Linked DNA regions of Homo sapiens: all the other regions are linked to region 3. The links come from fine-mapping of genetic effects on gene expression. A gene starts in region 3. Each other region holds a variant in brackets. All regions are shown on one strand. Distances are between the middles of the regions.

The links. PIP is the estimated chance that this variant, and not a neighbour inherited with it, causes the effect.
Region 1: its variant is fine-mapped to the expression of GK5 in esophagus mucosa (GTEx, PIP above 0.99).
Region 2: its variant is fine-mapped to the expression of GK5 in whole blood (INTERVAL, PIP 0.94).

The regions. Positions count from the first base shown.
Region 1 is chr3:142,299,877-142,308,066 of GRCh38, reverse strand. XRN1 (5'-3' exoribonuclease 1) reads left to right here. Exons shown (of 41, transcript NM_001282857.2): 41 at 1-1,457. Among named protein-coding and RNA genes, the nearest start is that of GK5, 78 kb to the right of the region's middle. The variant G/A (reference allele first, on the strand shown) is at 3,958.
Region 2 is chr3:142,809,036-142,817,206 of GRCh38, reverse strand. No RefSeq gene overlaps it. Among named protein-coding and RNA genes, the nearest start is that of PCOLCE2, 76 kb to the left of the region's middle. The variant C/T (reference allele first, on the strand shown) is at 4,968.
Region 3 is chr3:142,221,886-142,230,066 of GRCh38, reverse strand. It overlaps GK5 (glycerol kinase 5), which reads left to right and starts at 4,482. Exons shown (of 16, transcript NM_001039547.3): 1 at 4,482-4,758. The coding sequence starts at 4,612. RefSeq lists silencers at 4,299-4,538, 4,729-4,948.

The DNA of each region.
Region 1 (8,190 bases), 78 kb before region 3:
AGTTCTGTCACGCTTCTTCCCATTATTTAGAGCACAGTTTTTTAAAGCAACTGTACAATTTCTCAGCCTTATGAGCTTGCTGTATTTCTTGGTATCATGTTGCTTCCAAATTTTGTTTTTACTGTAGAAGACAATTAATTTATTGTAGAGAAGTGGCTGTGAAAGTCGTTCTCTGTCTTTAAAAATCAATTGCAGAAGTTCATTTGTCATTTTTCTAGAGATAAATTATAGTACTCAAACTGGCAGTGCTCAGTATATACATTTTGTAAGCTTTGTCAGTGAAACCATCAGTTTTGCAGGAGCTTCCTTTCCTAGTCAAGATAAAGCTTAAAATTCCAGAAATTAATGTCGTTCGGACTGACTTTATTCATATTTCCATCAAACTTCTCCAATACAGTAAGAGATAGTGTTGAACCAGCATCAAGTCTCCAGAAACATGGCAGAGCAGACAGGCCGTTAAGTTTCACAGACATCATAGATCCTTTTCTTAAAGAAGAAAAACATGTATAAAATAGTTTTAGTAGTCCAAAATGTCAACTATCTGTAGCTGCTTTTGTGTGTGTGTCAGTGAACAAATAATAATGCCTTGCTCAATCAATGCATTCAGCCATCTCAAGTGCAATTTGTGAAGGAGACTATGGTTTCCAAAAGATACATTTTTTTACAAAGTTAAACCTGTAAAAAGTCTTTTTTTTTTTCCCTCCAGCCGTACACCAACTGCACTTGGTTGTTTCAGCAGTTGGTATACTATTAAATTGTCCAGGCCAAATAGGTTTCTGTAGCTGTTTTAGTAATTTGAAGCCAAATTCTCATGCTGTTTCTCATTAAAAAGAATGAGAATTTGGTCCATAGTTAGCTTTAAGTTCTCTCTTCCTTTCTTTCCCTTACAGTTAAGGGTTTGGTGGGGGATGGGGAGGTTGTTTTCGTTTTTTGGATTTTTTTGTCTTTTGGCTTTAAGTATCATATTTTCTTTTGCCTGTATCCAACTGCTTCTTTGAGTATTTTCATCTAGTTTAATGTGAGTAATAGATGCTGTGCTGTCATTGAAGTGTTCAACATTTTGTTCATTTAAACAAAAGTGTAATTCATACATATATAGATACATATCTTAATTGATTTCTCAACTATTTTATAAGTAACTGGAATTTTTCATTAGATCTTATACAGAGAAGTATTTTATTAAAAATTCAAAAGGGAAGACTTTTATGTGCTCATTTTGTAATTTTTGATTTTAAATATCTTTACATTGTCTGCCAATTAAAGTGTTTTAAACTTGCATTGGAATGGACTCCGAATGTATTTTTGTGGTGTTACGTTATCCGTAGATTTCTAGCATGAAGTTAGCCTCACGATGCTGTGCAAAGGATTTTAAAATATGAGAGTCACTGAAAGAGTTTAAACATCTGTTCATGTTAAATGCTCTATGGATTTTAATTAAAGACTTGAGAATGATTTTATAAGCTGTTTGTTCTTTTATTACTATGCTGATATCAAAAGTAGAAACATTAGTCTTTTTGTTTGTTTGTTTTTGAGACAGAATCTTGCTCTGTCGCCCAGGCTGGAGATCTCGGCTCCCTGCAGCCTTCACCTCCCAGGTTCAAGCGATTCTCTTGCCTCAGCCTCCTGAGTACCTGGGACTACAGGCACATGCCACCATGCCTGGCCAATTTTTTAATTTTTTTTATTTCCATAGGTTATTGGGGAACAGGTGGTGTTTGGTTACATGAATAAGTTATTTAGTGGTGATTTGTGAGATTTTGGTTCACCCATCACCTGAGCAGTATACACTGCACACAATTTGTAGTCTTTTATCCCTTGGCCCCTTCCCACACTTTCCCTCTGACCCCCAAAATCCATTGTGTCATTCTTATGCGTTTGCATCCTCATAGCTTAGCTCCCACTTATGAGTGAGAACATACAATGTTTGGTTTTTCATTCCTGGGTTACTTCACTTAGAATAATAGTCTCCATTCTCATCCAGGTTGCTGCAAATGCCACTAATTCATTCCTTTTTATAGCTGAGTAGTATTCCACTATACACTATGTGTGTGTGTGTGTATGTACATATATGTCTGTATGTACATATATGTCTGTACATATATGTCTGTATGTACATATATGTCTGTACATATATGTCTGTCTGTACACACACACCACAGTTTATCTACTTGTTGATTGATGGGCATTTGGTTTGGTTCCACTGTTTTTTTGTTTGTTTGTTTTTTGAGATGGAGTTTTTGCTCTTATCGCCCAGGCTGGAGTACAATGGCGTGATCTCGGCTCACTGCAACCTCCGCCTTCCAGGTTCAAGCAATTCTCCTGCGTCAGCCTCCCCAGTAGCTGGGATTACAGGCACATGCCACCACGCCCAGCTAATTTTTGTATTTTTAGTAGAGACAGGGTTTCACAATGTTGGCCAGGCTGGTCTTGAACTCCTGACCTCAGGTGATCCACCTGCTTCAGCCTCCCAAAGTGCTGGGATTACAGGCATGAGCTACCACACCCAGTCTGGTTCCACGTTTTTGCAATTGCGAATTGTGATGCTATAAATATATGTTCAAGTATCTTTTTCATATAATGACTTCCTTTCCTCTGGGTAGATACCCAATAGTGGGATTGCTGGATCAAATAGTAGTTCTACATTTAGTTCTTTAAGGAATCTCCACACTGTTTTCCATAGTGGCTGTAGTAGTTTACATTCCCACCAACAGTGTAGAAGTGTTCCCTGTTCACCACATCCACACCAACATATATCATTTTTTGTTCTTTTTTTTTTTAACTAGGGCCATTCTTGCAGGAGTAAGGTGGTATCGCATTGTAGTTTTAAGTTACATTTCCCTGATTGTTAGTGATGTTGAGTATTTTTTCATATCTTTGTTGGCCATTTGTACATCATCTTTTTAGAATTTTCTATTCGTATCCTTAGCCCACTTTTTGATGGGATTGTTTGTTTTTTTCTTGCTGATTTGTTTGAGTTTGTTGTAGATTCTGGATATTAGTCCTTTGTCAATTGTATAGATAGTGAAGATTTTCTCCCACTCTGTGGGTTGCCTGTTTACTCTGCTGACTTCCTTTTGCTGTGCAAAAGCTCTTTCGTTTAATTATGTCCCAGCTATTTATCTTTGTTTTTATTGCATTTTCTTTTGGGTTCTTGGTCATGAAATCCTTGCCTAAGCCAATGTCTAGAAGGTTTTTCCAATGTTATCTTCTAGAATTTTTATAGTTTCAGGTCTTAGATTTAAATTCTTGATCCATCTTGAGTTGATTTTTGCATAAGGTGAGAGACGAGGATCCAGTTTCATTCTCCTACATGTGGCTTGCCAATTATCCCAGCACTATTTGTTGAATAGGGTGTCCTATCACCACTTTATGTTTTTGTTTGCTTTATTGTTGTGGGAAGTCAGGGACCCCAAACAGAGGGACCGGCTGAAGCCATGGCAGAAGAACATGGATTGTGAAGATTTCATGGACATTTATTAGTTCCCCAATTTAATACTTTTATAATTTCTTATGCCTATCTTTACTGCAATCTCTAAACACAAATTGTGAAGATTTCATGGACACTTATCACTTCCCCAATCAATACCCTTGTGATTTCCTAGGCCTGTCTTTAATATCTTAATCCTGTCAGCTGAGGAGGATGTATGTCACCTCAGGACCCTGTGATAATTGCATTAACTGCACAAATTGTAGAACGTGTGTTTGAACAATATGAAATCTGGGCACCTTGAAAAAAGAACAGGATAACAGCAATTGTTTAGGGAATAAGAGAGATAACCTTAAACTGACCGCCGGTGAGCCAGGCGGAAAAGAGCCATGTTTCTCTTCTTTCAAAAGCAAATGGGAGAAATATCGCTGAATTCTTTTTCTTAGCAAGGAACATCCCTGAGAAAGAGAATGCACCCCTGAGGGTGGGTCTGTAAATGGCCCCCTTGGGTGTGGCCGTCTTCTATGGTC[G/A]AAACTGTAGGGATGAAATAAACCTCAGTCTCCCATAGCGCTCCCAGGCTTATTAGGAAGAGGAAATTCCCGCCTAATAAATTTTGGTCAGACCGTTTGCTCTCAAAACCCTGTCTCCTGATAAGATGTGATCAATGACAATGGGGCCCGAAACTTCATTAGCAATTTTAATTTCACCCCGGTCCTGTGGTCCTGTGATCTTGCCCTGCCTCCATTTGCCTTGTGATATTCTATTACCTTGTGAAGTACGTGACCTTTGTGACCCACACGCTGTTTGTACACTCCCTCCCCTTTTGAAAGTCCCTCATAAAAACGTGCTGGTTTTGTGGCTTGTGGGGCATCACGGAACCTACCGACATGTGATGTCTCCCCTGGATGCCCAGCTTTAAAATTTCTCCCTTTTGTACTCTGTCCCTTTTTTTCTCAACCTGGCCGATGCTTAGGGAAAATAGAAAAGAACCTATGTGACTATCAGGGCAGGTTCCCTGATACTGTATGGAAGATCAGTTGGCTGCAAGTATTTGGGTTTATTTCTGAGTTCTTTGTTCTGTTCCATTGTTCTACGTGCCTATTTTTATACCAGTACCATGCTGTTTTGGTGACTATGGACTTATACCATAGTTTGAAATCAGGCAATGTGATGCCTCCAGATTTGTTTTTTTTTTGTTTTTGTTTTTTTTAGTTCTATGAAGAATGATGGTAGTATTTTGATGGGGATTGCGCTGAATTTGTAGATTGCTTTTGGCAGTATGGTCATTTTCACAATAATGATTCTACCCATCCATGAACATAGGATGTGTTTCCATTTGTTTGTGTCATCTGTGATTTCTTTCAGCAGTGTTTTGTAGTTTTCCTTGTAGAGGTCTTTCAACTCCTTGGTTAGGTATACTCCTAAGTATTTTATTTTTTTTGCAGCTATTTTGATTCTCAGCTTGGTCGCTGTTGTTGTGTAGAAGAGCAACTGATTTGTGTACATTAATTTCGTATCTGGAAATTTTGCTGAATTCTTTTATCAGTTCTAGCAGCTTTCTGGAGGAGTCTTTGTGGTTTTCTAGGTAAACAATCATATCATCAGCAAACAGCGACAGTTTGATTTCCTCTTTACCAATTTGGATGCCCTTTATTTCTTTCTCTTGTCTGATTGCTCTGGCTAGGAATTCCAGTACTATGTTAAAGGGAAGTTGTGAGAGTTATTCCAATTCTCAGAGGGAATACTTTCAACTCTTCTTTTTTTTTTTTTTTTTTGAGACAGAGTCTTGCTGTCACCCAGGCTGGAGTGCAGTGGTACAATCTTGGCTCACTGCAACCTCCACCTCCCAGGCTCACGCTATTCTCCTGCCTCAGCCTCCTGAGTACCTGAGACTACAGGCATGTGCCACCATGTCGAGCTAATTTGTGTGTGTGTGTGTATTTTTAGTAGAGACAGGGTTTCACCATGTTGGCCAGGATGTTCTCGATCTCTTGACCTCGTGATCTGCCTACCTTGGCCTCCCAAAGTGCTGGGATTACAGGCGTGAGCCACTGCATCCAGCTGCTTTCAGCTTTTTCCCATTCAGTATTATTTTGGCTGTGGGTTTGTCATAGATGGCTTGTATTATGTTGAGGTATGTCCCTTGTATGCCGATTTTTCTGAGAATTTTAATCATAAAGGATGCTGGATTTTGTCTAATGCTTTTTCTGCATCTATTGAGATGATCATGTGATTTTTTGTTTTTAATTCTATTTATGTGGTATATCACATTTATTGACTTGCATATGTTAAACCATTCCTGCATCCCTGGTATGAAACCCACTTGATCATGGTGGATTATCTTTCTGGATACATTGTTGGATTTGGTTAGCTAGTATTTTTGCATTTATGTTCATCAGGGATATTGGTCTATACTGTTCTTTTTTGGTTATGTCCTGTCCTTGGTTTAGGGTGATACTTGCTTCATAGAATGATTTAGGGAGGATTCCCTCTTTCTCTGTCTTGTGGAATAGTGTCAGTAGGATTGGTACCAATTCTCCTTTGAATGTCTGGTAGAATTCTGCTGTGAATCTTGTCCCGTACTTTTTTTTGTTAGTAATTTTATTACCATTTCAATCTTGCTGCTTGTTATTGGTCTGTTCAGGGTATCTAATTCTTCCTGATTTAAGCTAGATGGGTTGTAACTTTCCAGGAATTTATCCATCTCCTCTAGGTTTTCTAGTTTATGCATGCAAAAGTGTTCATAGTAGCCTTTGTATTTCTGTGATGTCAGTTGTAATATCTCCCATTTCATTTCTAATTGAGCTTATTTGAATTTTCTCTCTTCTTGGTTAATCTTGCTAATGGTCTATCAGTTTTATTTATCTTTTCAAAGAACCAGCTTTTTGTTTCATTTATCTTGTTTTTTTGTTTGTTTGTTTGTTTCAATTTAATTTAGTTCTGATCTGATCTTAATTATTTCCCTTCTCCTACTGGGTTTGGGTTTGGTTTGTTCTTGTTTCTCTAGTTCCTTGAAGTGTGACCTTAGATGGTCTGTTTGTGCTCTTTCAGACTTTTTGATGTAGGCATTTAGGGCTATGAACTTTCCTCTTAGCACCGCCTTTGCTGTATCCCAGAGGTTTTGATAAGTCATGTCACTATTGTCGTTCAGTTTGAAGAATTTTTAAATTTCCATCTTGATTTCATTTTTGACCCAATGCTTATTCAGGAGCAGGTTTTTTAATTTCCATGTATTTGCATGGTTTTGAAGCTTCCTTTTGGAGTTTATTTCCAGTTTTATTCCACTGTAGTCTGAGAGAGTGCTTGATATAATTCAATTTTCTTAAATTTATTGAGGCTTGTTTTGTGGCCTATCATATGGTCTATCTTGGATAAATTTCTATGCACTGATGAATAGAATGAATATTCTGCATTTGTTGGGTAGAAGGTTCTGTAAATATCTGTTAAGTCCATTTATTCCAGGGTATAATTTAAATCCATTGTTTCTTTGTTGACTTTCCTGTCTTGATAACCTGTCTAGTGCTGTCAGTGGAGTATTGAGGTCCCCCACTGTTACTGTGTTTCTGTCTGTCTCATTTCTTAGATCTAGTAGTAATTGTTTTATAAGTTTGGGAGCTCCAGTGTTAAGTGCATATATATTTAGGATTGTGATATTTTCCTGTTGGACAAGGCCTTTTATCATTATATAATGTCCCGCTTTGTCTTTTTTAATTGCTGTTGCTTTAAAGTTTGTTTTGTCTGATATAAGAGTAGCTACTCCTGCTTGCTTTTGGTGTCCATTTGCATGGAATGTCTTTTTCCACCCCTTTACCTTAAGTTTATGTAAGTCCTTGAGTGTTAGGTGAGTTTTTTGAAGGCAGCAGATGGTTGGTGAATTCTTATCCATTCTGCAATTCTGCATCTTTTAAGTGGAGCATTTAGGCCATTTGCATTCAATGTTAGTATTGAGATGTGAGGTACCATTCCATTTATTGTGCTGTTTGTTGCCTATATACCTTGGTTTTTTGGTTGTTGTTTTTTTTTTATTGAATTTTTGTCTTATAGGTCCTGTGAGACTCTTCTGTTCTCTCTCCTTTTCCTTTCCATCATTCCCTCTATCTTTCCTCCCATGCAGTGGAAGATTGTTACAGAGCAATGTAGGGAGAGGCTTAGTTCCTATTAATTCCTATTCTTAAGACTGGAGAAGGCCATGCATGGTGGCTCATGCCTGTAATCCCAGCACTTTGGGAGGCCATAGTGGGCAGATTGCTTGAGCTCACAAGTCTGAGACCAGCCTGGACAACATGGCAAAACCCCATCTCTATTTTTTTTTTTTAAATTAATAGAGATCAGACACAGGAGTTTAAATAAGTTGCTCCAAAAAAATTTGCCAGGTGTGGTGGTGCACACCTGTGGTCCCAGCTACTCAGGAGGCTAAAGTGGAAGAATTGCTTGAGCCCGGGAGGCAGAGGTTGCAGTGAGCCATGATGGCGCCACTGCACTCCAGCCTGGGTGACAGAGAAAAAAACAAACAAACAAAAAACAGAGAGTCTTCACAATAGCAAAGACATGGAATCAACCTAGGTGCCCAACAGCGGTGGATTGAATAAAGAAAACGTGGTACATACACACCATAGAATTCTATACAGCCATAAAAAAGAACAAATTCATGTGCTTTGCAGCAACATGGATGTAGATGGAGGCCATTATCCTAGGCAAATTAACACAGGAACAGAAAACCAAATACAGCATATTCTCACTTATAAGTGGGTGCTAAATATTAG
Region 2 (8,171 bases), 590 kb before region 3:
GCAGCAACCAGCCCTGTAGGAGGTTACCAGCCAGGGGCTGTGGGAGAGCGGATAACCATCCCTATCCAAAGAAGGCTGAAAGAACATTAGGGATGAACAAAGACGTGGGTCACAAACTCTTCCACGGTAGAAGCAAAGTTTTGGAAATAAGGGAAAATACTCTTTTAGATGAAAACAATAATTCCCAGCCCTAGGATGACCAGACATTTAAAGGGTGGCAAAATAGAAGTTCAGAAGGAACTCTGTTCCCTCTGTTACGGCAGCTGGGTGAGCCTAAGGAAACGACAAAATTGGGCTGACAGGCAGGTCAGAAACTGCTCCTATACTTTCCCACTGAGGAGCCGTCAGCAGGAAGTAGATGAACTAGAAGACCCTGATGACAGTGGGTGACTGGCTTCCCTGGCCAGTGTCAGCTTTTAGAAAGTTCTCTTAGCCAGCTGAACTTCGCAGACCAGCTGCGCCCAGCACAGGATGTAACTGTGGACTCCTCATTGATTCCAGCCTTCTCAAAGCAAGTTGCTTCCCTTTAAGAATACATGTTCCGGGACTTAGGAGGGAATCCTAAAGATTTCAGTATTTCTTCTTTCTGAATAGAATCTCCTATTGGTGAATTACAAGCAGCATGCTGGCGGGTATCAAGCTTCTGCATGACCAGCGGAAAGACTTCTTCAGGTGAGTGGGGGCTTGAGTCACAGTGGGGTAAAAACTGAGAAGAGTAATCTAAACTATTCATACTATTGACATCTCTGACACAGTATTTTACAACTGCTTAGGGGATTCACGGTTAAAAGTGTGTGGCACTGGTTTGTCTTTTACTTCAGTTATTCAAAACATAGAGATAAGATGAATCGTGAAGCTGCTCTTTCTGGAATAACAACCACTTTGTAATTTCTTTCCTTTTTAAACAATCATTTTTCTATGGTTTGACTGTATCCTCCAAATTATGTGTTGGAAAGTAAATCCTCAATGCAACAGTGTTGAGAGGTGGGCTCTTTTATGAGGCAGAGCCCTCACGAATGGATTAATGCCATTATCATGGGAGTGAGTGAGTTATCGTGAGAATGGGTCCTTGGTAAAAGGATGAATTTGGCCCCCTGCGTCCCCACTCCATCCTTGTCTTTCTCTTTTGGGCATGCACATGTGTTGATGTGTTCATGTGCTCTCTTGCGTTTCCACCTTCTGCCATGGGATGATGCTGTGAGAAGGCCGTCACCAGATGTGGGCCCTTGACTTTGGACTTCCCAGCCTCCAGAACTGTAAGAAATAAATATCTGTTCTTTATGAATTACCCAGTCTCAGATATTCTGTTATAGCAGCACAGAACGGACTAAGACACCTTTATTTTGACTGAGGTTTAGTTTCCTTAGTTATAATTTGAGGGAGTTAGACTACATAACTTCTGGGATCCCATACTATTTTCTCTTTTAGGAATTGTTTATTTTTCAAGAATAGTTGATAAGGTTTTGTTTTTGTTTTTAAGTATTTATACTTGGGGAATCAAATACACATGAAGAATGAATAGGTGACCATACTAACATATCACAAAACATTTCAAAATTATAAATAAATCTCACTGTTTCAGAGCATCTTGCTAGCTTGATTTTCATCCTTTGAATTCCTGTAAATGAACATTTAAGATTTTTCCCAAGTTCCCAAGTCTTAAATTCTGTAATTTACTTCCAAGTTAACCTTAATTGGAAGACATTTACCTTCTTTTCTTTCATGTATTAATAGACTACTGCTACCAGGCTCCCATTTACTTCTGGACTATTTAAATGGTATCAACTAATGACAAAAAAAACTCCCTTAAAGAAAAGCCCTGTAATTAAACAGGCACTAATGAGAAAGTTCTAACGTGAGTTAAGTAATATTAATCAGAAACACCTTTTGCTTGAGTTCATGGATTCAAGCAAACAAATTTATATTTTTTATATAAATGGAAACAAAAAATTTGCAATTAAATTCAATTAGCAAGCAAATGTTTTTTAAAAAGATTTGACCTAAGTATTCTAAAGACCTCGTATTGAGAGAGAGAAAGATAAAAATATTAACTTAGGACTTTGATAATTTAAGTATTTACATTAATTTTTCTAGGGTAATATAATAAAATAATAATATAAATAGAGCATAAATAATATAAATAGAGCATCAACATTTAAAACCAGCAGAGGAAAAAAAAGAAGAAATTAAAGAAAGTGAAACCAGGAAAAATACAACAAAATAAGGTAAAAATACAAACATATCAATAATTTCAGTAAACACCTAAACTAAGTCCTGAAAGTTATACGTCAAAATGGTCAGACTGGCTTAGAAAAAGAAATACAGCTATGTGCTATTTGAAAGAGACATCTAAAACATGAGGACACGGAAAAGTTGAGAGGAAAGGGATAGAAAAAGATAAATACAGTATACCAGGCAAACATTAACCAAAATAAAAATGGTATGGTTTTATTAATACCAGAAAAAAAATACTTCAAGGCATTACTCAAGATGAAGAGAGTTACAAGGAGATATAACAATTCTAAATTTGCACACAGCTAATAACATCCTTCAAAATATATAACTAAATCTGATATAGTATAAATAGAAATGGACAAGTTTACCATCATAAGGGGAGGTTTTAACATGTTTCTCTCAGTATTGACAGATTTAAAAGAGAAAACATTAAAAATATAGAAGTGTTGAACCGCACAATTAGCTAGATTTACCTAACACACATATGTAGAACAGAACCAAGGGCACATTATTTTGAGCTCGTATGGAACAATTTCAGAACTTGCCATGCACCATGAAGCAAATTCCAACAAATTTCAAACAACTGGTATCGAACAGCCTTCTCTAACAGTAAATGACTAGAAATTAATAACAAAAAGTAAACAACAAAAAACAAGAAAAAAATTGGAAATTAAGAAATGTACTTTCAACTCATGATAAAAAGGAAACCATAATGGAAAACAAAATATTAAAAACTGAACAATAGAAAAACTGCATTTTAAAATGTGTGAAATGCAGCTTAAATAACACTTTAAAATTTATAATCTTACATGTTTACATTATAAAAGAAAGGATGGAAATTATTAATTTGTGAATGATACAAATTGGGAACTTAGTAAAAGGAAAACACCATAAACTTTTAAAAGGTAGGATAAAATAGCATAGAGCAGAAATTGAATAAAATTGTCATCTTAAATAATAGAAAAAAGGAAAGCCAAATGTTGGTTCTTTAAAATGACTAATATAATTGACAAAACTCTGACCAAATTAAGAAAAGCTAATTTTTGTATTTTTAGTAGAGATGGGGTTTTGCCATGTTGTTCAGGCTGATCTTGAACTCCTGATCTCAGGTGATCCATCTGCCTTGGCCTCCCAAAGTGCTGGGATTATAGGCGTGAGCCACAGCACTGGGCCACGAATAGCCTCTTTTTGACAAAGGCTCTCTGGATGTACAAGTGTGGGATTGCCCATGGATGCATGGAATCGGGTGTTCTGGGTGAGTAGCTCTGGGATATACATAAAAATTTGTTCTGAAGTATTCTAAAGTTATTATTAAAAATCCTGGTTTTGATTTTTTTGTCATTTGCTTCTCCCTTTTAAAAACAAAATCAACAATTGAGTTTAAAAGGCTAAAATTTGATTAGATATAAATGAAACATCTTTGCCTGAATGATGTCCCTGTAGCATTCTAATACTAAGATTGGGTTAGATTTCAACGAGATGAAGCTTTTAAGTATAGAAACCTATGAAGAAAATTTACAAGCTGAAAGTAAGACTTCATATATCTGATTAATTCATCTCACAAAAAAACTGATATTAATAGTAACATAATGCAGGTAAGAGCCTCCCAGCTGAAAAGGAAAAAGACTTGGATTCTCATTCACAGTGTGGCAATGGGAGAACTTTAGTTTCCTTATCTGTAACATGAAGTTGAATTGGATACTTTCTGAGATCCCTTATGGTCTTAAGTGGTTTCTGGATCCTTGAATATGTACTTTTTTTTTTTTTTTGAGATGGAGTTTCACTCTGTTGACCAGGCTGGAGTGCAGTGACGTGATTTTGGCTCACTACAACCTCTGCCTCCCAGGTTCAAACTATTCTCCTGCCTCAGCTTCCTGAGTAGCTGGGATTACAGCCGCACACCACCATGCCCAGCTAATGTTTCACTATGTTGGCCAGGCTGGTCTCAAACTCCTGACCTCAGGTGATCCACCTGCCTTGGCCTCCTAAAGTGCTGAGATTACAGGCATGAGCCACTGCGCCTGGCTGAATATTCAAATTGATTAGGATAGAAAGTGGCACAGAAATAAAATTCACCAGTCTGTGTGCTTTAAACACTCTGGTCCCTTCTGGTCTGGCTGTTACTTTCTGAGGCTAACTCCCCCTTTCCTATGATGTTCACTACCTACCTGTCCATCCTTTTCCTCCAACTCTTGCTCATCTTGCTGGTCTCTGCTTGACCCTCGTCATAAAAGTTTTTAACAAATTAGTTATTTAGAAAAGTAGGAACTTAAGTTCTGTTTGCTGACCAAGATGAACCTACAATGAGAAGCTAATTCAAAAATGGAAAGCTTTTGGATATATATTGACTGATAGGAAAAATCAATTGAATTCAGTATCTCCAGTCAGTATATACACTTGGACAAATTACTCAAAATGCTAGTTTTCCTGTATATTAAATTAGAAGGTTGAAGTAGGGAATCTAAGTTTTCTTTTAATGTAGTTTGAGAAAATAGGATCTGGAGCACACAATTGTTAAGAGTATTTAATAAACTAGTTGTCATTCCTAGAATATTTACACTAACGGATAATGGCTAAATTTTTATTCAATAACTTTGTGCCATTCAACATTAATACTATACTTAGAGTGAGGATACAAAAGAGAATGAGAGAACTGTTCCTTCTTGTGCCTGGTCTTGTTTTACAGCTTTTCAAAAGAAAGAGGCTGGGTGTGGTAGCACACTCCTGTAGTC[C/T]CAGCTACTTGGGAGGCTGAGGTAGGAGGTTCTCTTTAGCCCAGGAGTTGGAGGCTGTAGTGTGCTATGATGGCACCTGTTAATAGCCACTGTACTTCCAGCCTGGAAAATATTGTGAGACTCTGTCACTGGGGTCAGCGGGGGTGGATGGGAGAAGAAAACATCTGCATTCAAGCAAACACAGAAAATATTGTGATTGCTTTTTCCGTTGAAATAAAATTGGAGGAAATGAATTTTAAAATGAGAAGCTGAATTACCTCACAGAATTAATTCAATTTCTGAATGAGTTACTGAGGTAGCTTGTGCATTTTCCTCCTTAAAATTTTTAAAACAGCACTCAATCATTTTATCTCATTTTTTTTTTTTTTTTTTTGAGGCAGAGTTTCACTCTCGTTGCCCAGGCTGGAGTGCAATGGCGCAATCTCGGCTCACCACAACCTCCACCTCCCGGGTTCAAGCTATTCTCCTGCCTCAGCCTCCGGAGTAGCTGGGATTAAAGGCATGCGCCACCACCACGCCAGGCTAATTTTGTATTTTTAGTAGAGTCAGGGTTTCTCCATGTTGGTCATGCTGGTCTCAAACTACCGACCTCAGGTGATCCACCCACTTTGGCCTCCCAAAGTGCTGGGATTACAGGCGTGAGCCACCATGCCCGGCCCATTTTATCTTTCAATAAGAATAAATTTGCCTAAAATTGAAGGATGAATTAAATAACCTTTCTAGTGGGGAGAGAGAGGGAGAGAGAGATAATTTTCCAGATTCTTGGTAGCAGGATGAAGAAAAAGGAACTTACTGTGTCACATATTGGATTGGCTGGGATAGTAGTTTTTGTTTTTTGTTTTTTTTTTAAGTATACATTTACCTCCTACACAAACCTGCTGTTTTGCCTCTTTTATTACTATAATTTAATTTATATCAGAAATCATGTCTCTTAAAGATGGTTTTTTTTGTTTGTTTTTTTGTTTTTTTGAGACAGAGTCTCGCTTCATCGCCCAGGCTGGAGTGTAGTGGCGTGATCGCGACTCACTGTAAGCTCCGCCTTCCAGGTTCATGCCATTCTCCTGCCCCAGCCTCCCGAGTAGCTGGTACTACAGGCCCCCCCCACCATGCCTGGCTAATTTTTTTGTATTTTTAGTAGAGATGGCGTTTCACTGTGTTAGCCAGGATGGTCTCGATCTCCTGACCTTGTGATCCACCCGCCTCAGCCTCCCAAAGTGCTGGGATTACAGAAGATGGTTATTTTTAAAGCATCAACTAGTATATAAAAATTTTCCTAATTTATGTGTTGCATATCTGAAGTATTTATTTCAGTCTGGGGGCAGGGAGAGCAGAATAGGAAAAAACAATGTGAAATTATCAAATGAAGAGAAGCACTGTAATGGGAAATTCTTCTAAGTATATCCTCCAGAAACACAGCTTGTTTATGAATGGGGCCGTGATGCCAGAAAACTAATACATTAACTTATAAATGAGGAATTCAGAGCAGTGATTATCCCTGATACTATTATTAGTTTCTTAGTGTAATCTGAATAACTAGACCCAGTTGGTTTACTCCCAGGATCTATACCCTCAATTTATTTGGTATTTTATACACGTATTTTCTGAGGAAAACAAAAATTTTGAAGTCTAAGGAATCAAAGAAAGTTTTCTTTATCAGGTAGAAAAGAGATAATAAGTATTTATTAATAAGATTAAGAGCACTTCCACTTTTATCATTTTTTAAGAAAGACTGTCAATGATTAGCAGTTGGTTTGTATCCTTCAAACAATTAATAACAACAACCTGTAGTTACTTTAAGGAAAGATGTTAAGCTTTGAAATCTGAACACATAACTAAATGATAAGCAAACTGGTCTTCATTGGGATTGCATGTGAGTAGAATCTCATTCTATTTTTTTAGTTATTAATATATAATGCTATTAGATTTCAATGCTAAAAACTATAAAACATTGCTAAGGGAAATTAAGGAAGACTTAAATAAATGAGAAGCTACATCATGTTGATAGTTTAGACAATACTGTAAAGACGTCAGTTCTTCCCAAAGTGGTCTCTAGTTTCAATGCAATTCCAATAAAAATCCCGTTTATTTTTTAAGAAATTGATAGATTCCAAAATTTAAATGAAAAATCATAGAACCTGGATAGCAAAAATAATTTTGAAAAAGTAATACGAAGTTATTCACCTTGGCATTTATTACTGTACCCCACTGTGCTGTGTGAGTGATGGGCTACCAACTTGCAGATGCAAGCACTGCTTTCTTTGGCAGTGGTAATGAATTTTAAGATTCCACTGTTATTTTCTTATTTATTTTAGTATGTTGTAGCATTGTATTTTAGATTTTTTGTCTGGGTTATTAAGGCATAATTTCTATACATTAAAATTCACTCTTTTTAAGCATACAGTTTGATGAGCTGTGCAGTCAGTTGTCTCCTAGACCACTAGACCCTGGTACTCAATGATCTGATTTCAGTTCCTATAGTTTTGTCTTTTCTAGAATGTCATCTAAATGGAACCATACAGTATTGTAGCTTTTTGTGACTGGCTTCTTTCACTTACTTTTAAAATCCATCCATGCTATTGCATATATCAGCAGTTTGTTCCTGTGGTGGCTTTATAATGTATCAACTTGGCTAGGCCTAATTATGTTTCCCAAAATTCCCTTTCTTGTATGCTTCCAGTTACAAGAGACATTTTAGTGCAAGACTGGAGAGCAGAAGTGAAGCAGCAGCCGTTTTGTTCTTGATGCGGGCACTTCTGCAGCTCACACGTGCTGTAACTTATCTGCTGGTTCACTTTGCTAATGTGGGGCAGCAGCCAGGCCTACAGTTGACCCACCTTTCCTTGGATCCTGCTTCAGCTTCTCTTGATTCCTGGGCCAAGTGAGTGTTTAGTAACATACTTGCAAAAGCAAGTGGCAAAGGGCAACACTTCTCCAACAGGGTACCACATCATAAGGTTGGAGATGTGAGGAGTCACATGGGACTCGGTCTGTCTTCATGGGTTCTAGCTTGTCCCTGATCTCTCCCACTTGACATCCATCTTTTCTTCCCACCTGCCTACCCTGTGGACTTCCAGCTCTGCTCCAGCATTAGATAAAAAAACAGGGACTTACAGAGACTGCTTACCAACTCCAACAGTTGTGTAATGTCAGATCCCTGTAAACAAATCACTATACACACACATACATGTGTGCCTGCAAATATCC
Region 3 (8,181 bases):
TAGTGGTGAATTCTGACATTTTAGTGTACCAGTCACCTGAGTAGTGTACATTGTACCCAGTAGGTAGCTTCTTATCACACACCCCCGTCCCACCCTCCCATTTCTGGGTCTCCAAAGTCCGTTATATGACTTTGTGTACCTTTGTGTACTTAGCTCCTACTTCTTTGGTTTTCCATTCCTGGGTTAATTCACTTAGAATAATGGGCTCCAGCTCCATCCAAGTTGCTGTAAGACATTATTTGATTCCTTTTTATGGTTGAGTAGTATTCCATAGTGTGTGTATATATATATACCATATTTTCTTTATTCACCCATTAGTTGATGGGCACTTAGGTTGGTTCCATATCTTTGCAATTGTGAATTGTGCCATAATAAATATATTTGTGTAGGTGTATTTTTCATATAATGACTTATTTTCTTTTGGGTAGATACCCAGTAATGGGAATCCTGGATCAAATGGTAGATCTACTTTTAGCTCTTTTAAGGAATCTCCACACTGTTTTTCATAGAGGCTGTACTAATTTACATTCCCAACAGCAGTCTGTGTTCCCCTTTCACCACATTCACACCAACATCGACTATTTTTTGATACAGTCAATTTAGTTGTACATTAAAAATAAGAGTATAATTTGATTGTTTGCAACACAAAGGATAAATGCTTGACATAAAAGATACCCTATTTACCTTGATGTGATTATCATGCCTGTATCAAAATATCTCATGTAACCCAAAAATATATACACCTACTATGTATCCATAAAATTTTTTAAAAATTAAGAAAAAAGAATGACTGACCAGCTATCAAAGGCCTTAGAAGCCTCTGAGCCCTGTGCCTTGTTGCCCATATACTCCTTTCCCTTAGAGAAGAGCAGGGTTAGAGGTGCTGACAGAGAACAAAGCAAGTGGGAGAAACAGGTATCTCTTTGTTCTCCCAGGCCTCTCCTACTCAACAGTGAAATAAGATCTTGATTTTTATCTGAGATCTTTATGTTTGCTTTACCCAACACCCAGCACCTGAAGTTATGTGCAAAATTTTGTGTGTATAAGCATCTTCTTGGGAAGATAGTGTTCATTATGGCCTCAAAGTTGTTCAAGATCTGAAAACAATTTGAGAAACACTAGATTAAGTGGTTTCTAAGGCCCCTGTTTTCAAATTCTATGATTTGATAATACTCAATATAATTTATTTGAATTTATAAAAAGGATCATTAAGGAAGTGTCAGGTTTCAAGAAGCCAAGAAATATCACTTTGAGAAATATACTAAATATTAACATCAGGTAATACAAAGCCGTTTTCTCTGTTGTGAATGGGGAACTGATATGGTTACTATTATGTGTGAACTTGGCTAGGCTAGTTAGACACACTGTATGCCCAGCTGTTCGGTCAAACACCAGTCTAGGTGTTGTTGTGAAGGTATTTCTTAGAAATAATTAACATTTAAATTAGTAGACTTTGAGTAAAGCAGATCACCCTTCATAACCTGGGTGAGTCTCATACAATTGGTTTTAAGCTTTAAGAACAAAGACAGGTTTCCCAAAGAAGGAAGTCTCCTCAAAACTGCAACATGGAAACTCTTCTTGAGTTTCCAGCCTGCTAGCCTGCCCCACAAATATCCAGGACTTGCCAGCCCTCACAATCACATGAAGCAATTCCTGAAAATAATAAACCTCTCTTTCTCTTTCTCTCTATCCTATTGTTTCTATTTCTCTGTAGAACCCTGACAAGTACTGGACCCATTAGTCATTTATTTCGAATTACAATAATTCACACACACACACGACCAAAATGGCCAGCACTGGTGAAGGCAGTCAGTCCTTGAGGCCACTTGGAACAAATCAGTACTGTTGAACAGGGTACAAAGAAAAAAAACATACTCTTCCAGGTGTATGTTCCAAGCTTCACGTTGTATGGCCAAAGAGCCAATTTTGTCAAATTGTCTGAAAGCAAGTTGATTAACACGACAATTTGGTCAAAAGAATGACTTGGCCCTGTGCAGTGGCTCACGCTTGTAATCCCAGCACTTTGGGAGGCCGTGGCGGGCGGATCACGAGGTCAGGAGATCCAGACCATCCTGGCTAACATGGTGAAACCCCGTCTCTACTAAAAATACAAAAATTAGCTGGGCATGGTGGAGAGGGCCTGTAGTCCCAGCAACTTGGGAGACTGAGGCAGGAGAATCGCTTGAATCCGGGAGGCGGAGGTTGCAGTGAGCCGAGATCGCAGCACTGCACTCCAGCCTGGGCAAACAAGGGCAAAACTCCGTCTCAAAAAAGAAAAAAAAAAAAAAAGAATGATTTGGCTGGGCACAATGGCTCACACCCATAATCCCAGCACTTTGGGAGACAAAGGTGGGAGGATCACTTGAGGCCAGGAGCTCAAGACCAGCCTGGCCAATATGGCGAAACAGAGTCTCTACAAAAAAATGCAAAAATTAGGCGGGCGTGGTGGTTGTAGTCCCAGCTACATGGGAGGCTAAGGCAGTTGGATCGCCTGAGCCCGGGAGGTCGAGGCTGCAGTGAGCTGAGATGGCACCACAGCACTCCAGCCTGGGCGACAGAGCAAGACCCTGTCTAAAAAAAGTTTTGATTCAAAATGAGTATGTATGTATGTATGTATGTAAGTATGTATGTATGTATGTATGTATGTATGTATGTATGTATGTATGTATTTTGAGGCAGAGTCTTGCTCTGTCGCCCAGGCTGGAGTGCAGTGGCATGATCTCGGCTCACTGCAACCTCCGCCTCCCGGCTTCAAGTAATTCTCCTGCCTCAGCCTCCCCCGTAGCTGGGATTGCAGGAGCCCGCTACCACGCCCGGCTAAGTTTTGTATTTTTGTAGAGACGGGGTTTCACCATGTTGCCCAGGCTGCTCTCAAACTCCTGACCTCAAGTGATCCGCCCGCCTCGGCCTCCGAAAGTGCTGGGATTACAGTCGTGAGCCCCCGCGCCCAGCCAAAATGATTATCTTTTACCTTTTAATTGACATACCAGTTGGCACTGTTAAACGTTTTCACACAAAACATATATTCATATGTTTGCTAATTTTACAAAAAGAAGATAAGGAATATTTTCAGGCCCCGGCTTCACAGATTGCTGGTGGCAGTGGAGAGGTGGGTGGCGCAGGTGGAACCACCTCCCCACTACTTGCAGATCAGGACCCTCCCCGGGAAAGCTCCAGGCCCAGGAACCTAAGCCGCAAGAATCTCGAAATTTCCACAGGACACCTTGTTCCTTTTGGCCAAGTGTCTGGATGAGCCCATCCCCTTGGGCAGCAACAAAAGGTAAAGGGTCTCTGTGAGGCTTTCAGATTCCAAAAAAAAGCAACCGCTGGAGTGGAGTGTGATGGTCAAAGCAGCCACCTTAAGCTTTCTCCTTTCTTTCCCACTAGAGGGCTGAGAAAAGTCTTCTTCCTTGCGTTGTATTTCATTTGGCAAATATTTACCGCTTTGTATTGTGTGCAAACTTTACCAGGTTTTCTGGGAAGAGAAGTCGTGGGGAGCTCTCAGTTTGTTAATAAATATTAATACTTTTGGCCAAATTTTGAATTTTTTATGTCACTTGTTTTATTTCATTTTTGAAAAACAGCACTTTATTTCATTTAACTCTAGCATATTCAATGGCTGTGCATTTAATAATACTGAAATAAAGTCGCACCCAAAATGTTAGCAAAAAAATGGAAACTATATATGGTAGTGACCTCTACAAATGTTTTAAGCTTGAAAAATTCTGCACGAACGCAGACACAGGTTAGTCTGCCAAAGTTACTCAGATAAAAATTTCTCCAACCCTCAAGTCATAATCATAGTTGAGAAATGAATAAATGTGCCTTATGGCACCTCCAAACTTTTTGAGATTTTTATATAAACTAGCCTATACTTCTCTCCTTACGATTAGCATATGGGGTAGCTATTTTTCTTTAACAGAGATTCTTCAAATGTAGCTAGGGTTAAGAGAAACGCTGGCGCTGCCTCTCAGGAAGCTGGAGAAGCAAAAGAAAAAATTAAGAGTTAAGGGCCGCCGGGCTCGGTGGCTCACGCCTGCAATCGCAGCAATTTGGGAAGCCGAGGCGAGCGGATCACGAGATCAGGAGATCGAGACCAGCCTGATCAACATGGTGAAACCCCTTCTCTACTAAAAATACAAAAATAGCCGGGCGTGGTGGAGCGCGCCTGTAATCCCAGCTACTCGGGAGGCTGAGGCAAGAGAATCGCTTGAACCCGGGAGGCGGAGGTTGCAGTGAGCCGAGATCGCGCCACCGCACTCCAGCCGGGGCGACAGAGTGAGACTCCGTCTCAAAAAGAAAAAAAACAAGAGTTAAGGGCCAAGTCAATCCAACCGCGGCCGGCGACTGGAGGCTGAGCATGGCTGGCGATCTGGGGCTGCAGATCACGGCGCAAACCCGCTCACCTCCACCCCTCCCGCGCGGCCGCCGGCGCGCGCCCGTGGCGTCACGGCGTCGGGGTGGAGCCGGCGGCAGGGGCCAGGCCTCTCTAGGCTCTCCGGCTGAGCCGGGTTGGGGCCCGGGTTGGGCCGCCCGGGGACTCTGGAGCATTGGGATTTGTAGCGCGCCCTCTGGGTAGGCGGCTGTAGCGGAGAGGCGTGCGGGATCGGGATGTCGGGGCTGCTCACGGACCCGGAGCAGAGAGCGCAGGAGCCGCGGTACCCCGGCTTCGTGCTGGGGCTGGATGTGGGCAGTTCTGTGATCCGCTGCCACGTCTATGACCGGGCGGCGCGGGTCTGCGGCTCCAGCGTGCAGAAGGTGACTTGGGGGCGGGCGTGGGGCGCGGGTCTGACTGGGTTTCGCTGAGTCCCGGGGTCCGGCCTCGGGAGGCGAGCGGGCAGGCCCCACCTACCGCCCTGGACGCGGCCACCTGCAGCACCCGCGGGCCCTGGGGCCAGAACGGCGCGCCCAGACCGGCTGAGTCTTCGCGTTCCCTCCCTCGTCTGGGCTGAATCCCGCGCGCCCTTCCTGTCCAGGCTGAGGGTGCCAGGGGCCCGGTGTATGACCTGGGCCGCTCGCTTGCCTCTTGCCACCTGGGGAGCCACCTGTCCGGCCTTACCTGGATGGGACTGAGGTGACTCGCCGGACGGGACTGGGCAGGCTGTGCACATCCAGCCAGAGGGTGGTTTGTGAGTTGCTTGGTTCTTCCTGCACTTCCCTGATAGATCTCCCACCACATCTTTATTTACATTTTAATTTTTCAAAACTTTTTTTCTTTTTTCTTTATTATAGCCTTTGGACTTGTGCCTCAATAACTTTTCATATCTTTGTAGAATTTAAGTTTATTCTCTATTCTTCACTTGTCATCTTTATTAACTACTACTCCACAAAATGCTGGTTCCTTACGTGAGCAACTGATTGCCGTGGATATTAGAGGTATTGGGCAAGTTTTGAAGGCTGTGTGGTCATCAGTTTTCTATTTTCCATCTTTGAGAATTCATAAAATTCTTTATTTCCCCTCGTTTGAGAGACCTGCCAAATCATTGGTTGGTTGTTAGTAAAGCCTTGAATTGTTGATAATATTGGTCAGCAACCAACAAATTGATATCCTTCTGTTCTCATATTAATGAAGTGTTGATTTATACACAATTGTCAATGCACCAAAAATAATATTTATTTGTTATGGTGTTCTTATTGTTGTTCCTTTTTTTCTTTTGAGACAGGGTCTCACTTTGTCACCCAGGCTGGAGTGCAGTGCTGTGATCTCGGCTCACTGCAGCTTTGACCTCCTGGGCTCAAGTGATCCTTCCACCTCAGCCCCCCAAGTAGCTGGGACTACAGGCAAGGGGCCACCATGCCTGGCTAAATTTGTTTGTATTTTTTAATAGAGATGGGATTTTGCCATGTTGCCCAGGCTGGTCTGGAAATTCCTGGGCTCAAATAATTCACCCGCCTCGGCCTCCCTAAGTGCCAAGATTACAGGCGTGAGCCACTGCAGCCAGCCTGTTATGGTGTTCTTATTTTCTCTTCCCAGTACCAACATCTTTTTATGTTAGAAATTTGAGGGAGGGCCGGAGCCATCAGTTACCTAACCATTCCCAGCAGCACTGTATTCCCCCTTTTTCTCAGTGTCCCGTTCTTCTTCCCACCACCTTAGAGGTGTTTTTCTTTGTAGCACTTGCCCAGGAGCAAGGTCCAGCTAGAGTGCCAGTGAGTAGTGACTGCTTTGAGCATTTGTTCTGGGGAAACATCAGACTTCCTTCCATTAAGTTTTTCTTTTTTTTCTTTTTAGACGGAGTCTCGCTCTGTCACCCAGGCTGGAGTGCAATGGCATGATCTCGGCTCACTGCAACCTCTGCCTCCTAGGTTCAAGCAAGTCTCCTGCCTCAGCCTCCTGAGTAGCTGGGATTGCAGGCACCCGCCATCATGCCTGGCTAATTTTTGTATTTTTGTAGAGACAGGGTTTCGCCATGTTGGCCAGGCTGGTCTTGAACTCTTGACCTCAGGTGAACCGCCTGCCTCAGCCTCCCAGAGCACTGGGATTATAGGCGTGTGCCACTGTGCCCGGCCTCCATTCAGGTTTCAGGACCAAGACAGTGGAACTGGGATTGTAGCAGCTCCCTGGTCCCTTCTCTGGCTAGCTGTGTGGGAACACTGCCCACCCACCCACACACTATCCCTATCCCAGCCTGAAAAGAAAAATGAAAGGCAGACACCACCCTTCAGTGACTGGGTACTCATTACCTTTCTAAGAGTATTTATCACAAAAACGATACTTTTTAAAGTCTCCCTTATAATTCTAGACACAAAGTACTTTTAAGCACTGTTTTTTTGTTTGTTTTTGTTTTTCTTTTAAGGAATTGAAATATTTGGAACCAAAGGGAGAAATGAATTACTAGAAAATGCAAAGTTTCACAGTTAATATATAATTTGGGGCAGATCATTAGTTTTTTTAGGAATGAAGTGAGGAATCTCAAAGATGGATCAAGATTGCTGTGAGTGGCAGGAGGCCAGGAAGATTTGCACAGACTCTAAACTGTGGAAAATGTGTCTGGATAAAAGAAAGATATGAGTAAATAAAAATACAAAAAAAATGCCTGCTCTTCCCGGATAAAGCACAGTCGTAGATTAAGAAATGTGCAGCAATGCCTCTCTGTGTGGTAGGAGTTTATAGCAGTACTGCTTAAAGTGTAGTTACGGGGCTGCTGGGATTGAGATAATAAAAGAAAACTAAGCATTTAGAAACTTGTGTAGCAACTTAGCAGAATAATTTTATGTCTATTGACTCTAGTAATGAAACGTTTGGGATTTTATTTTGTATGCCTTTTTTTTCTGGAAACTTTATAAAAATTATTGTTATTTTTAGAGACAGATTCTAACTCTGTCCCCCAGGTGGCCTGATCACAGTTCACTGCAACCTTGAACTCCTGGGCTCAAGCAATCCTCCTGCCTCAGCTTCCTAAAGCTCTGGGATTACAGGCACGAGTTACTGCACTAGGACTAGAAACTTAATTGTATCTTAAAAATTGCTGGTCCACAATGAATATAATTTTTTTTTTTTTTGAGATGGAGTCTCGCTCTGTCGCCCAGGCTGGAGTGCAGTGACTGATCTCGATTCACTGCAAGCTCCGCCTCCCGGCTTCATGCTATTCTCCTGCCTCAGCCTCCTGAGTAGCTGGGACTACAGGCGCCCGCCACCAAGCCTGGCTAATTTTTTGTATTTTTCATAGACATGGGGTTTCACCGTGTTAGCCAGGGTGGTCTCGATATCCTGACCTGGTGATCCACCCGCCTCGGCCTCCCAAAGTGCTGGGATTACAGGCATGAGCCACTGCGCCTGGCCAATGAATAGAAATTTTTTAAAAAAACAATTAGCAACTGGTCCTTTACTGCAGATAATTTGAGTTTTTTGGGAACAAGGATCTTGTTGGTCTACATTGCTGCTTAGTACCTGGTTTATTACCTCATTGTTACAGAATAAATAATTGAATTGCAGTTAAAATGTTAGGAATTCATGGGGCTCTATGACTTAGACACAGAACTTGATTGTGTTTATTCTGTCAAGTGAAAATTACACCTCTTGTAATATTCCAATGGAAAGAATGTATAATAGAAACCTAAAACCTCTTAGTGTATGATTTGATTATACTGGGAAAGAAATTTTTAAAAAAGAAAAAATAAAGAGATTCCCCTTTGTAGACAAGAACAAAATAGGCTGTGAGAAGACGTCAATCTTACTTC